Homo sapiens: one gene and its partners. The protein of the gene in region 4 interacts with the protein of the main gene of each other region in a pairwise test. Each region holds a gene or a part of one and is shown on either strand. Other genes may lie near its edges.

Evidence for each region. The genes of interacting proteins can lie anywhere in the genome.
Region 1: the proteins of BNIP3 (region 4) and EBAG9 interact in binary tests that used the Homo sapiens proteins (3 or more experiments, as listed by UniProt).
Region 2: the proteins of BNIP3 (region 4) and SLC35B1 interact in binary tests that used the Homo sapiens proteins (3 or more experiments, as listed by UniProt).
Region 3: the proteins of BNIP3 (region 4) and FAM3C interact in binary tests that used the Homo sapiens proteins (3 or more experiments, as listed by UniProt).

The regions. Positions count from the first base shown.
Region 1 is NC_000008.11:109,543,173-109,546,672, reverse strand, and holds part of EBAG9 (receptor-binding cancer antigen expressed on SiSo cells), read right to left. Parts: intron 1-3,500. UniProt on the Homo sapiens protein: May participate in suppression of cell proliferation and induces apoptotic cell death through activation of interleukin-1-beta converting enzyme (ICE)-like proteases.
Region 2 is NC_000017.11:49,705,165-49,709,419, forward strand, and holds the start of SLC35B1 (solute carrier family 35 member B1), read right to left. Parts: upstream 2,801-4,255; 5' UTR 2,781-2,800; coding exon of another isoform or gene 2,670-2,780; coding exon 2,566-2,669; intron 2,281-2,565; coding exon of another isoform or gene 2,179-2,280; intron 1,905-2,178; coding exon 1,801-1,904; intron 1,171-1,800; coding exon 1,040-1,170; intron 733-1,039; coding exon 702-732; intron 118-701; coding exon 1-117.
Region 3 is NC_000007.14:121,358,309-121,361,808, forward strand, and holds part of FAM3C (protein FAM3C precursor), read right to left. Parts: intron 1,820-3,500; coding exon 1,735-1,819; intron 1-1,734. UniProt on the Homo sapiens protein: May be involved in retinal laminar formation. Promotes epithelial to mesenchymal transition.
Region 4 is NC_000010.11:131,969,554-131,971,923, reverse strand, and holds part of BNIP3 (BCL2/adenovirus E1B 19 kDa protein-interacting protein 3), read left to right. Parts: intron 1-390; exon of another isoform or gene 391-953; coding exon 954-1,060; exon of another isoform or gene 1,061-1,136; coding exon 1,137-1,286; exon of another isoform or gene 1,287-2,269; coding exon of another isoform or gene 2,270-2,297; intron 2,298-2,370. UniProt on the Homo sapiens protein: Apoptosis-inducing protein that can overcome BCL2 suppression. May play a role in repartitioning calcium between the two major intracellular calcium stores in association with BCL2.

The sequences.
Region 1 (3,500 bases), on a different chromosome or scaffold from region 4:
ACACTAACACTAACCAGAGCTGATAAGCCTAAAAAAATTGCAAAAAAATCTCATAATGTTTTAAGAAAGTTTACTAATTTGCATTGGGCTGCAGTCAAAGCCATCCTGGGCTATATGAGGCCCACAGGCAGCAGACTGGACAAGGTTGCTCGAGAAATTATAAACAAATATAGAGTGACAGAAAATATCAGCAGTGCCTTGTAATGAGGCAGGGAGAAGTGGGAAGGAAGGATCACTGACAGACATGACGAAACTTTTGGAGGTAATGGATATACTTACGGCTTCAGTTGTGGTGGTTTCATAGGTGAGTGTATATATATTCATCAAAACTAATCAAATTGTATACTTTAATTATATACAGTTTATTGCATTTCAATTAGAGCTCAAAAGAGCTGTTAAAACAATCTACACGAAGACATTTTTGAACAATATTATGTCACTTAAATTAGAACAGTGTTCATATTCTGGTTAGAATACTGTTTTAAAAACTCATTAACACCATCATAATCTTGTATCAATTATTTGTTACTTTCTAGAAAGCCAACTTCCATTAGGAAACTAGGACAATTAGTGAAAAGAAACATTATTTCAGAACTTCTCTAAAAACAGAAATCTGATTTCACAATAGCATTTCAATATACTGTAATAGCTTACTTTATATTTCATAAAAAGCATTCTTCTTAGTGATTAACATGTAATACTCATTCAATGCTCACAACAACCCTGGGAAGGACTTGAAGCAAGTACTATTTTGTCTCTACTTCAGATAAGAAAACTAAGGCACAGCGGGGTTAAGTAAGCTGCCAAAGATACAGAACTGATAAGTTATAGAACTGGAATTTGAACCCAAAGAGTCTGGTTGTAGTGTCTCAGTCCTTAAATATCACACTCATACTGCCTCCCTATGATTAAATAACAAGATATATGTCTTTATGAAAGAGATGATATAGGAATTGAAAACTACAGCCATAGCAATGATAGGAATAAAGATTCTAAAAATGATAAAACTATGCTGGGCGCGGTGGCTCACGTCTGTAGTCCCAGCGCTTTGGGAGGCTGAGGCGGGCAGATCACGAGGTCAGGAGTTCGAGACCAGCCTGGCCAATATGGTGAAATCCCGCGTCTACTAATAATACAAAAATTAGCCAGGTGCGGTGGCACATGCCTGTAGTTCCAGCTACTCAGGAGGCTGAGGCACGACAATCACTTGAACCCTGGGAGGCGGAGGTTGCGGTGAGCTGAGATCACATGACTGCACTCCAGCCTGGGCAACACAGTGAGACTCCATTTCAAAAAAAAAAAAGGTAAAACTGGCATTATTTTGGTAGCCTTTTTTTTTTTTTTTTTTTTTGAGACACAGTCTCGCTCTGTTGCCCAGGCTGGAGTGCCATGGTGCAATCTCAGCTCACCGCAACTTCCGCTTCCCGGGTTCAAGCAATTCTCCTGTCTCAGCCTCCTGAGTAGCTGGGACCACAGGTGCCTGCCACCACACCAGGTTAATTTTTGTATTTTTAGTACAGACAGGGTTTCAGCATGTTGGCCAGGCTAATCTCGAGCTCTTGACCTCAAGTGATCCACCCCCTCAGCCTCCCAAAGTGCTGAAATTACAGGTGTGGGCCACCACGCCCGGTCTGTATCCTTTTTAAACATGGTTCTTAATTTCCAAATTTTTCTTATACATCTTAGTCACCTATACTATATATGTATTGCATATATTGTATACTATATATGTACTGCATATATTTACCCTAATAATCACTATTTAATTTTAAAAATTTCTTAAGATGAGTTTTGGCACAAGTTAAAGTTGAAAACTTAAGTAACTATGACAATGTCCCGACTAAGAGCCTCAAAATACACACGAAAGAGGGAAAAAAATCTGTTAATCCATTAGAGATAGTCATTTTTCCACTGTTGAGAGGTAGAACAGACCACATGTTAAATCAAGTCACAAGAAATACACAGGCAAACATACATATGTGTGTGCATATGTGCACACACTTACAGGAATAACATTACTGATAATGGAATCTCATGTCTTAGCTTTTCCTTGCCTTCTCTTTGTCAAAGGAGGAGAATTACTATGTATTCAGAATCATGATTCCTGTCATTGGAACAGCTGGAGAATACGTCATCCAACTTCTTAAATTTTCTAAATGAGGAAACTAAGATACACTGAAGTTAACGGTTCTGCTCAAGGTGAAACAACCAGGTAATAACAAAATCACAACTAAAACAGACTGGCCTCTCAATCCATTAGTAACACCTTTAGAAACAATCACAACACTTGATTAATACAATTATTTAGAGTGCTGACTTCTTAAAACAAAAAGAAAAAACATACAGTAATTTGATAGTTTTTTTTCCCAGAATAAAAAAGCACAAGCAGTATATTTGGACTTCAGTTCTACACATACTTACTTAAAAGCGGATAAAACCTAACTTAAGTAATAATTATCATGTGACCACATTAAAGGGACAGCTATATACCTTTTTAAAATTGAAATGTTAATTAGTTTTTTAATTACCTTACATGAGCATAAGATAAGCAATAACATTTAGAAACATAAGGAGTAAAATCATCCTGGATAAATACACCATCCCTGTACTATAACATACTTTTTTTTTTTTTTTTTTTTAATTGAGATAGAGTCTTGCTGTGTCACCCAGGCTGGAGTGTAGCAGTACAATCTTGGCTCACTGCAACCTCTGTCTCCTGGGTTCAAGTTATTCTCGTGCCTCAGCCACCCCCAAATCTGAGACTACTGGCACATGCCACCACACCCGCTAATTTTTGTATTTTTACTAGAGACGGGGTTTCGCCATGTTGGCTAGGCTGGTCTCGAACTCCTGGCCTCAAGTGATCTGCCTGCCTCAGCCTCCCAAAGTGCTGGGATTACAGGTGTGAGCTACCATGCCCAGCCCATGCTTTTTAAAAATGCATTTCATGGGGATTCAAGACTCCTAAAGTCTTGAAAAAAGCAGCTTTTTACCTAATAAAATATTACATTGAATAGGTTAAAAATTATATAGTAAAAAAAAATGGTCATCTCTGATAGGGTATACTGAAGCATTAGAGAGCTAAGATCTAATATCTCAATCTGAGTAGTAACACCACATACTTGACTGTATGTACTGTTTGTATGCTATACCTCAATACGAAAGTTCCAAACAAACACATAAAAAATAAGAACAAAACAAAATCAGAAAGCCAGAAAAACATACTTAACTCTCATAGTATCTGATCTTGATTGCTCTGTAAAGGCATCATTGCCAATTTCTTCTAAGGAAAGGCAAAACGCACACTAGTCTTTTCTATTTCTAGGGTCAGAAGGGGCTTGTAGGCTATTAAGGTACAAAGACAGGGCTCTAAAATGTTACCTTAGCAATACTCAAGTAGTTTTGTACATATGGAGGCTGTCTCTCCATATAAGCTGAAAGATTTACTGAATGCCTAACCTGGAAGTGGCCTACTAATTGACAGGATGAAAAGAACAGTG
Region 2 (4,255 bases), on a different chromosome or scaffold from region 4:
CAACAACTTTCTTGGGTTTGTACATGAAAAGGGCCACTCCAGCCACAATTAACAGCACACACAGGTACTTGGCCAACGGGTACTTCTTCTTCAAGAGGGTCACCCCAAGGAGCATGACTACAGGGAAAAAACAGAGTGGAAAATTCAGGCATCCATAAGGTATTGATGACCCCAATGCCCTCCCTCCCAGGAACCAAGAAAAGACTCAGGGAGAAAAGAATGACTGAGAAGGAAGGCTTAGAGAGGACAAAAGGAGGGTGCCAGGCTGGCACCTAGATAAGGATTGAGCAACAGGGTTAAGTATAAGACAGGGAGGAGGTAGAGAACAAAGGTGAAAAGTCCAGGAAGGGACAGGACAAGGGTAGGGAACAGTGGAGAAGGAAAAGAAGTTGAGATAAAGAAACTGATGATCAAAATGGGAATTAAGTTGTCTAATGACAATATAAACACATGCAACACAGAAATGGCTGACCAAGTGAAGCAGGCTAGGTCAGCCTTTAGCTCCTATTAAGGATTACCAGCCTATGAACATCACAAGAAGTGACACAGATGACAGGATGGGCAGCAGGGAGAGCTGGGGGAAAGTCCCTGGAGACAGCCATGATGGGATGATGAAGCCGAGAGGGACACAGTTGTAGCAGAGAGAGAGCTTACTATAGGAAGAGTGACGACAGAAGAGGAAGACCATCTTCTTTGCTTACCTGGGATTGGCTTGCAGGATTTACCAAGGACCTGAAATTAAATCCAGCAAATAATTTCTGAGCATCTGTGATGTGTCAGGTACTATGCTAGGTACCGCACTGATTAAGATGAGTAAGCACAGGGCCTGCACCAGAGACCTCAGCCTCAGAAAGCAGCCCTATCATGGCCCAACCCACCACCACTAAACGTAAGTTCTATGGTTCTATACACTCCCAATGTCTTACAGGACCGTTATCTTTTTTTTTTTTTTTTTTTTAACTCACAGACCTGAGGGAAGAACTCTTAGTCCTTTTCAAATGATATCTGAGCCAACCATCATCCCACCCTGAGGTTTCACCTGAGTTGGGTAGTTGACAAACTGTAGTGCTGAATTGCTGGAGACCATGGCACCCAGATAGGAGATAGAACAGGCAGCATAGAGCCAGCTCCGGGTACGATCCACCCTGGCAGTGTCAAAAAACTGGATCACTGGGAGAAGACAAAAAAAAAAAAAAAAAAAGAAAAGAAAAGAAAAAAAAAAAAAAACAAGAGAAACCTGGTGGGGCTAGGATGGACCACTAAGCAAAGCTGAAGCCACATGAAAGGAACTTGTCTGTCAAACAAGACACAAGCTATTTCTGTCCTGTTACACTGGGAAATCTCTGAAAATTATTCATCTTTCCAATTCTACCTAAGCCCAACAAAAGACCACATGCAGGGTGGAGGTGGGGGCCTCATTCAGTTCAAGGGACCAGTCAGCTCTGCTGCTAGTCCCCAGGGAACAAAGAGAGAATGCTCAAAGCATGCTTGAAGCTGACACACAAAAGAAACTCAAAGGGAAAGAAAAAAATGTTTTAAGTATTTTCAATGGGGATTTGGAATATAGAAGACCCATTCTCTGAACATTTCTAACTCAGAAGCTGATAAAAATTGGGGAAATAATATTTTACTCCACTTCAAAGTCATTAGTTTTACAGACTTCACAGAGAGGCTGTGTAAGTACAAAATGGGGTGGAGATCATGAGTTAGCCTTTAAGGTTGAATCAATGCTTAATGCCCAGCATACTGAGGGAACTTGGGGTGGTGGGGTACCCAACAAATTACTATCTGGGTACTCACAGATCTTGGCAAACACAGCATTGATCACACATTGAATGAAGACCAAAGTTAAGGCAAAGGTGAACGTCTCCTGCTTGGCTCCTTCCCCATACTTTCCTCTTGTTCTAGAAATGAAATGCATGAGAAAAGAGGGAGAAATTAGTGTATTTCACTCACTGTCATCTAATATATCCCGAGCCACTGAAAACTTTAAAATTATCTTGCCTCTCTGGATGTAGGCAGAGTTTGTTAAGGACCACTAGGCTCATTTGCAAAAGGGGCTGATTTTACTGGATCTAGAAACTAGACATCCCAGCCTACTGATTCCAAAGCCTAAGAAAAGAATACCCGAAAAAGACGGAGAGGAAACATGCAGAACGAGATAGTGAAATCAGGTACCCCAGGCAGGAGGAGACGGTATTTCGGCTATGGCACCAAGGCCGAGGACGAATAGGTTGTTTGCAAGCATCTGGGAGTACCAAAAGGGGGCCGACTCGGGTCCTGTTTGAGGAATAGAAGTCTCAGCCTGTAAAACGCAGGCCCTTAGAACCAAGCGGGGAAAAACAGCTAAGAAAAGAAAATAACCAAGTCCGAAGAATCCAGAAAATAATCCTGGAGTTCTGGAATTCTGGGTAGGCTCAGCCATAGCTGCAAAAGTAGTAGGGTGCTAAGAGGGCGACAGCCGGGCAGGAGGACAAGAGGAAAGCCCGGGTCCAGAGGCAGAAGGCCCGGGATCCCTGTCACAGGCTGGGGAGAGACTGTCGGCCCGCCCCCGGGGTCGCTCACATCTTTTCCTGCAGGATCCCATAGTAAAAATAGCAGACAAAGACACCCAGGAAGCAGAGCGGCAGGCGCAGCCGGTCGGGCACCAGGGAGCTGCTAGAGGCCATGAGACGCCCAGAGGAGCCGACTGGAGACCCGCTCACAACCGGCACCGGCAGCAGCGGCGGCGGAGGCGACAGCTCCAGCCGGACATCGCCGACCGGCGGCAGGGGCCTCATAGGAGCTGCATGCGACCGCTGTCCAGCAGGGCCCAGCAGTCACTACCAGAACTGCCGGCTCATGGCTGCCAAGGGGGAAACTCCTCAGAACCCAGCAACCACTTCCTAGGAAAGAAAACCCGCCCTGGGACCTTGGCTCCATCCCTGAGGGCCAGGGGAACCGGCAGCCTCGAGACTGATCCCTCGCCCTGGAGATTTTTCCAATCAGGCAACTCTGAGGACAACTGCGACCCAGAGCACCACAGGGTGTCCTAGAGCCACCTGGGCGTAGAATAATGACGTATAAGGATGTGGAGGCCACCAATTGGCTGCGCTGTGCGAAGACGGACAGGTAGGCGGGGCGGGAGGAGGTGTGGTCGGCAGAGCAAATCCAATAGTCTTTTCCGCGGCGGGCGGCCAGGCTTCTGCTGGGTCCTAATGCCAAATTCCTTACTGGAGCTTCAGCGCCGTCTAGCTGCTGCCCAGCGTCAGCGACTTTACCTGCTCATTACCTAGGCACATCACTAGGCTTCCAAGGGGGAGAGCGGCACAGTAAGTCTCGGCTTGGTCACTTAAAGGCGGGGTAACCTACCCGTGTCACCCAAGTTCTGAGCCAGAGTTTTCCAGGTCTGGAAACTAGGGATAATTAGTAATAGCCACCTTGTCGCCTCTTGGCTGTTGTGAGGATCAAATAAGAGTGTTTTGTAAACTGTAAAGTATGCTGTGCAAGCTTAAGGTATTATTAGTCATCACTGTTTGTCAGCCCTGATCTTATTTCCTCACATCGAGGGGTGGAAATGGAAGCTTACTGAAGTCAGTTTTCTTCCAAGTCTTAACAACTCACCAACAATGGCGCAAACCCTTCGGCCGCGCTCCTGAATATTTCCCATTAATGAGCTCCTCGTTGGATCCCTTCCTCATGCAAGTGTTGGGTCTTCACTTGCTGGCACGAATTGCCAGGGCAAGACTGACCTCAGGTCTTCCTACTACTACCTCCAACCCCCTACTTAATTGGCCCAAATCTCCGGCCACCTGGTGGACTCTGGGCTGCTCTCTAGGTCGAGGCTCCTCTTCTAGCAGCCTGCTCTTTTGGCACAGCCTCAGGCAAAGGAAGGAAATACTGGGCAGCACCACACCCATCGCTCCGGGCCTGACTCAATAAGGCTTTGCGGGGGAGCCAGAAGTCTTTTAGAGGGAGGAGTAAGGGATAGAAGATAGGGTGTCCCCAGCCCACTGTCTCCTCGATATTAGTGGCATGGGAAAGCCCCATACATTTGCTCTCTTGCTCACTAGCTTACTCTACTGGCTCAGCCCGCGATGCCAGGGCACCAAATAGCTGGGAAGAGAGACCTGCCAGCTCTACTTCTTTACCAGCTGGGACCTCAAACAATTCGCTTGTCCTGAGTCGAGTTTCCTCACGTGAAATTAATGGGAATATAATAACAAGCAGGAGAGCGCTGTGGTTAGAAACATGGGCACTGGATTCAAATGATCAG
Region 3 (3,500 bases), on a different chromosome or scaffold from region 4:
TCTTGTAGTATTAAGGCTCTGTCAATTAAAATCTATAAAATCTATAAATCTTGTAGTATTAAAGCTCTGTCAATTAAAATCTATAAAGGATGTTTTTTATCCTTGATAAGTCATCTGAAGAAAAGTCAGAGAAAAAATTATTTTTTTCTAGAAAGAAGAACATTAAAGGGGATTTAATCTCAACCAGAGAGGCATGAAGTACAATTACTTTTATAAAACAATTTTAAAATAATTGAAATAGTGTCTTTTTGGAACAGAGATAAACAGGTCAAGTGAATGGAACAGAACAGAAATTCCAGAGATAAAGCCAAATCTACATAAGAACATAGGCATTGTGTGTCATGGGGAAATTACAAATGGGTTTTTAAAAATACATGACAACAGTGAAATCACTGGAAGAGAAAATCTACTAAATATCTAACCTGGAGGTGGAAAAATACTTCTCAAGTATACAAGGAGAGTGATAGAAAAATACATAGACTATATAGGCATTAGTCTAAAATTCTAAAATTCAAAAAGCACCCTACACTAACAAAATTAAAAGCAAATAATGTACAATAAATACATTTCTTTTTACATTAGAAATGGTTAATATCCTTAAAACGTGAAGGGGTCTTACAAGTCAAGATAGGCCAACTCGAATGGTCAAAAGACAATTTACATAAAAAGGCAAAAGAAAAAAAAACCACTTGTGAAAAAAATCCAATCTCAATAATAAAGGCATATTAAAATAAGATACCTTTTCAAACTCTTAAAATTGAAACTTAAAAAAATTAACAATTGGTGCCATGGAACTTCTGAGAAAAATATAAAATTGGTAAAAAAATTTTTAAAATCCATTTTTAAAAACATGCACATCCTTTAATTAATCATTTCCACTTTAAAAAAAAGAAGTCTATCTTAAAGACATAGACATGGACTGTTCAAACATTTCTAAGATAGTCTATTGTGCTAAGTATGCAAATTGGAACTAGTCTGGGTCCAGCAATAGGCAACCCATTAAACAGGTTATAAATCATGACATTTTAAAAACCAGACTAGGCAGGCATAAACAATTTTTTATAAAGAATATTTAATAATAAGGGGAAATATTCACCACGTAAGTGAAGAGATATGCTATAAATACTAGCATTCTAAATATTTAATGCCAAAAAATGTGTCTTAAGTCATCTGGAATAGAAACTAAAATATCATCAATGTTTACACTGGGTAGTGAGATGGACTGGAACTTGGTCTCTTTGCGCTTTTCTATAATTTTCCAAATTTTTACAACATATACTATTTTAAGAAAAAGTTATAAAACTACTATATATTAAAATTATTTAAAATATAGCACACCTGTATCTTTGACAATTAACTCCATTTCTTGAAATTTACCCTAATGACATAATAATAGGGAAACTTTAAAGGTGAGCCCATAACTGCTGATGAACCATAAAAATGCTATTGAAGAATATTAATGCTAGGAAAAACAATTTCAGAATGTTAAAAAACAAAACATAAAAGTATAAAAAATGTTACATATGATGTGATTCTAATTTCATGACAATATATGTGTGATAAACATTTACATATAAAACCAGGAAGGAGGCAAAGTAAAAACAAAAATTGTTAGTTGTGTTTACCTGGTAGTTTGATTACTTTGCTCTATGTTACAGATTTTTTTTTAATGAAAATGTATTGCTTTTATAATTACAAATTATAGTTCCAAAAAGTTCTGTAAAGTTTACATACTTGGTTGCTCCATCATCGTATGTTCCCATTAAAACTATTGTTCCATCTTGTATGGCCTTCAGAAACTCAATAAATGGTGCCACATCTGAAGAAAAAGAAAGGGTTTAGGGTTTTAAAAAATGACTGAATAAGCATCACGATAATCTCTGAAAGTAGTATTATAAAACATGAAGTATCTGTAAAGCAATAATTTCCAATGTAAAGTAATCCAAAAGACAGACAAATCTCATAAAGAGTTTAAAAACTGTTAAATTTGTCCCTTAACATAATCCCACTATCAACTTACAATTTCCCATTCCTGATTTATCCTGTGTCTTTCGTATTGATATTCCTGGGGCTAAGTGAAAAAAATCATAGCAAAGTAAAGCATGACTTACGAAGTAAGAAATTCAGAGATCTCTCAGATTTGAATAATTGGGATCCTGAAAACCTTATTCTGGGGTCCATGCATAAGCTTAAGGAGGCATGGGAGGTGTGTGGACTCCTTAAGTGTATGTAAAATTGTATGGGCTGAGCACAGTGACTCACATCTGTAATCCCAGCACCTTGGGAGGTCAGGGCTGGGGGATGGCTTGAGCCCAGGAGCTTGAAACCAGCCTGGGCAATATAGTGAGACCTCATCTCAACAAAAAAATTTAAAAATTAGCCGAGCTTGGTGGCACATGCCTGTAGTCCTAGCTACTCAGGAAGTTGAGGCAGGAGAACTGCTTTGAGGCCAGGAGGTGGAGGTTGCGGTGAGCTGAGATCACACCACTGCACTCTAGCCTGGTTGACACAGCAAGACCCTGTCTCAAAAACAAAACAAAAAAACAAAAACGAAACGAAAAAAAGCATAACAATGTTTGTATGGGTACTTTACTAGAAAGAGGATACACAGCTTTTCTCCGATTCTCAAAGATATCTGTAATTTTTAGAAAATCTAAAAATACATATACACACAGATTTAAAGGCTATTTTAGGTATATCATTTGCTATAAACTGGGAGAAGGAATATGTTAGGTGATCACTAAAAGCCAAACTAATTGTAGCAAATATTACAGTCATTACTCATTTGATCTACCAAATCAAAATCCACAAGGACTTCAAAATAAACCACTTCAATGACTATAAACTGTTGATGCCAGATACATAGGTCAGATTCTAAAAACCACTTGACATCTTGAACTCTTTACAATGTCTGGGTTCCTTATAGCTCTGAAGTCTAATTCTACTCCAAAACTGGGTTACTTCAAATGTACTCAGTTTCTTTCCACAGCAAAGATGCCAAAGATTTTCGATAACTGATTATATTTCATAATAATAGCATTTTCAATTCAAAAAGATATAACAAGGCAGCTAACAAACTACTTCCATTTAAATGCAAAAGTGGCAATAAACTGCAACAATTTCCTAACTAGAAGAATGCTGCTAGCGGTAATTAATCTACCTGTGACAAGAGAAGTAAGGAATACCAGAGCTCCTGGTCACATGACTGATTTCAACAACAGCTTTGTAAGACTCTTTCTATCAATAAATTTTGGCAGGACCAATTTATGCCTTTAGAATCTAAAATTGATGGTCCCATTTTAAGTTTATACAGCTTTGACAGCTATGCAATGTTGTCCTAACATTATTTAATAACAAAATAATACACGGCATCTTTTGTTTTTTTGAGACGGAGTCTGGCTCTGTCGCCCAGGCTGGAGTGCAGTGGCAAGATCTCGGCTCACCGCAACTTCTGCCTCCCCGGTTCAAGGGATTCTCCTGCTTCGGCCTCCCAAGGAGTA
Region 4 (2,370 bases):
GTGCTAGCGCTTCCCTCAAGGCTTTCTTCACCAAGGAAACAAGGAGTCCCTGTTACCCAGGCTTTCTCAGGGACATCCCCTGGCCCCACTCCGAGGGGCAGCATGATTTCGGGAGCCCCAGGAGCCCTGGCTGTGGGTGTGTGGGTGCATCCAGGGCGTGCGGCCTGCTCCTGGGCACTTGGGGCTGTACCCAGCTTGGGTGTACCCAGATGTTTGGTGGGTTTGGGGAGCTATATTCTTGAGTATTTTCAATTTTATTTCTTTTTTTTTGAGACAGGGTCTTGCCGTTTTCACTGTTTTACACAAAACTTCCCCTAGTTTTAAAAGGAATTAGATGTTCAGGTACAGAATTTTGAAAATGCAAAAAAGTAGAGAAAAACACTTAGACTCTCAGATTTAAAATCCTCTTTAATGTTTCGTGCTGTTATATAATTCTGAGGATTTGGCCGCAGCTGTGGTTATGTGGACATTTCTGCCTTTTCCCTCCTGCTTATCCCGGAAGCATCTTGTAAACCTGCTCACTATACAGTGTCCCTTCCTTCGTCATGTCCCTGTTTTGAGCCGTTTTCGGCTGTTTTCATTTTCTTTTCTTATAACCAGTGCTGCCGTCACCATCTTTGCCCTCATGTCACGTGACTTCCCTAGGACAGTGTTTGCCGCTGTCAGTACCCCCAGAATCTCACAGTGAACCAAATGTATTTACGCCCTGAGTGGGGCTCCCCCAGAGGTGATCTGTCCCTGGAGGCGGCGAGCGTGCTGTGAGCCGGGAGTGCGGCGCGGCCCGGGGAAGGCCCCCAGCCCCAGGACTCCCCTTGGACCACGGTCCGAGGCACTGACATGTGCCTCTGGGCTCTTGAATTGAGCCTGCGGATCTGAAGCTCGGGTGGGAGCTGGGTGCTTTCCCGTGTCACGTGTGGTACACTGATCTGCCTTTAACATTGACTTTATCTTAGTCTGAGGAAGATGATATTGAAAGAAGGAAAGAAGTTGAAAGCATCTTGAAGAAAAACTCAGATTGGATATGGGATTGGTCAAGTCGGCCGGAAAATATTCCCCCCAAGTGAGTGTGTTCTCAGTGTCACGGGGGCACCCCTTGACAGAGGACACATCAGCTGACACGTTTCTTCCCGCCTCAGGGAGTTCCTCTTTAAACACCCGAAGCGCACGGCCACCCTCAGCATGAGGAACACGAGCGTCATGAAGAAAGGGGGCATATTCTCTGCAGAATTTCTGAAAGTTTTCCTTCCATCTCTGCTGCTCTCTCATTTGCTGGCCATCGGATTGGGGTAGGTGATGTGACTGTGTGACTCCTGTCATGGCATGTCGTGGGGCGATTCTGGGTTGCAGTGATTTATTCGTAACCTGTTTCCTGAAGTCCAGATCATCAGTTACAGCTTGGTGCATTTTCACAAACACCCACGTAGTCACTGTTCAGGTCCAGAAACCACCAGCCTGCAGCCCCCAAAGGCCCCAGCACAGGCGCCCTGTGGTGCTGCTGTCTGGCCTGACGAGTCTGCCTGTTGCTCACTGAATATAAACGGAGTCAAAGCAGGGCTTCTTAGGTCTGACCTCTTTGTCCTGTGTGTAGGTGAAAGCAGTCTCATTTCTGTGTAGTACTGTGGCGGGAATGCACCCAGCTCTGCTGTAGGTGGAGGGTCTCAGTTACCTGCTGTACTTCCTCCAGACAGGACTGTTGTTCTAGTAACTCTCAGCAATGAAGGAACCAATGCAGTCTCCGACTTTACTGGCTTGAGTTTCGCTCTTGTTGCCCAGGCTGAGTGCAGGGGCGTGATCTCGGCTCACTGCAGCCTCTGCCTCCTGGGTTCAAGCGACTCTCCTGCCTCAGCCTCCTGGGTAGCTGGGATTACAGGTGCCCACCACCAGGCCTGGCTAATTTTTGTATTTTTAATAGAGACGGGGCTTCGCCACGTTGCCCAGGCTGATCTCGAACTCAAGGGATGGCTCACCTCGGCCTCCAAAGTGCTGGGATTACAGGCGTGAGCCACCGCGCCTGGCCTTTCCTGGCTGCTTATACTCACTCACCCTGCAGAAAACACAGAGACCAGGCAGGCGCCGCTGTGGGTTCTGAAGAGCGTTCGCCGCAGCGGTGGTGAAGAGCCAGAGCGGGAAGCCAAAACGGCTCCTCCTCGGGCTGGTCCCAGCCTCTCAGCGGGGAGGAGGGCTCTAGTCCTGGCGTGCAGACAGTGTTCTGTGGCTGCCGTGTGTTGGACAGACTGGAAAGACCGGAATGCCACTGGGGGCAGGTGGGTTAGGTAGGTTGGCCAGAGGGCTCACATCTGGGGTTGAAGGAAACGGGATAAAAGCCACTGAGTTTCCTGGGCCGGGACCTGAGCGCTGCCCGTGTCTCCA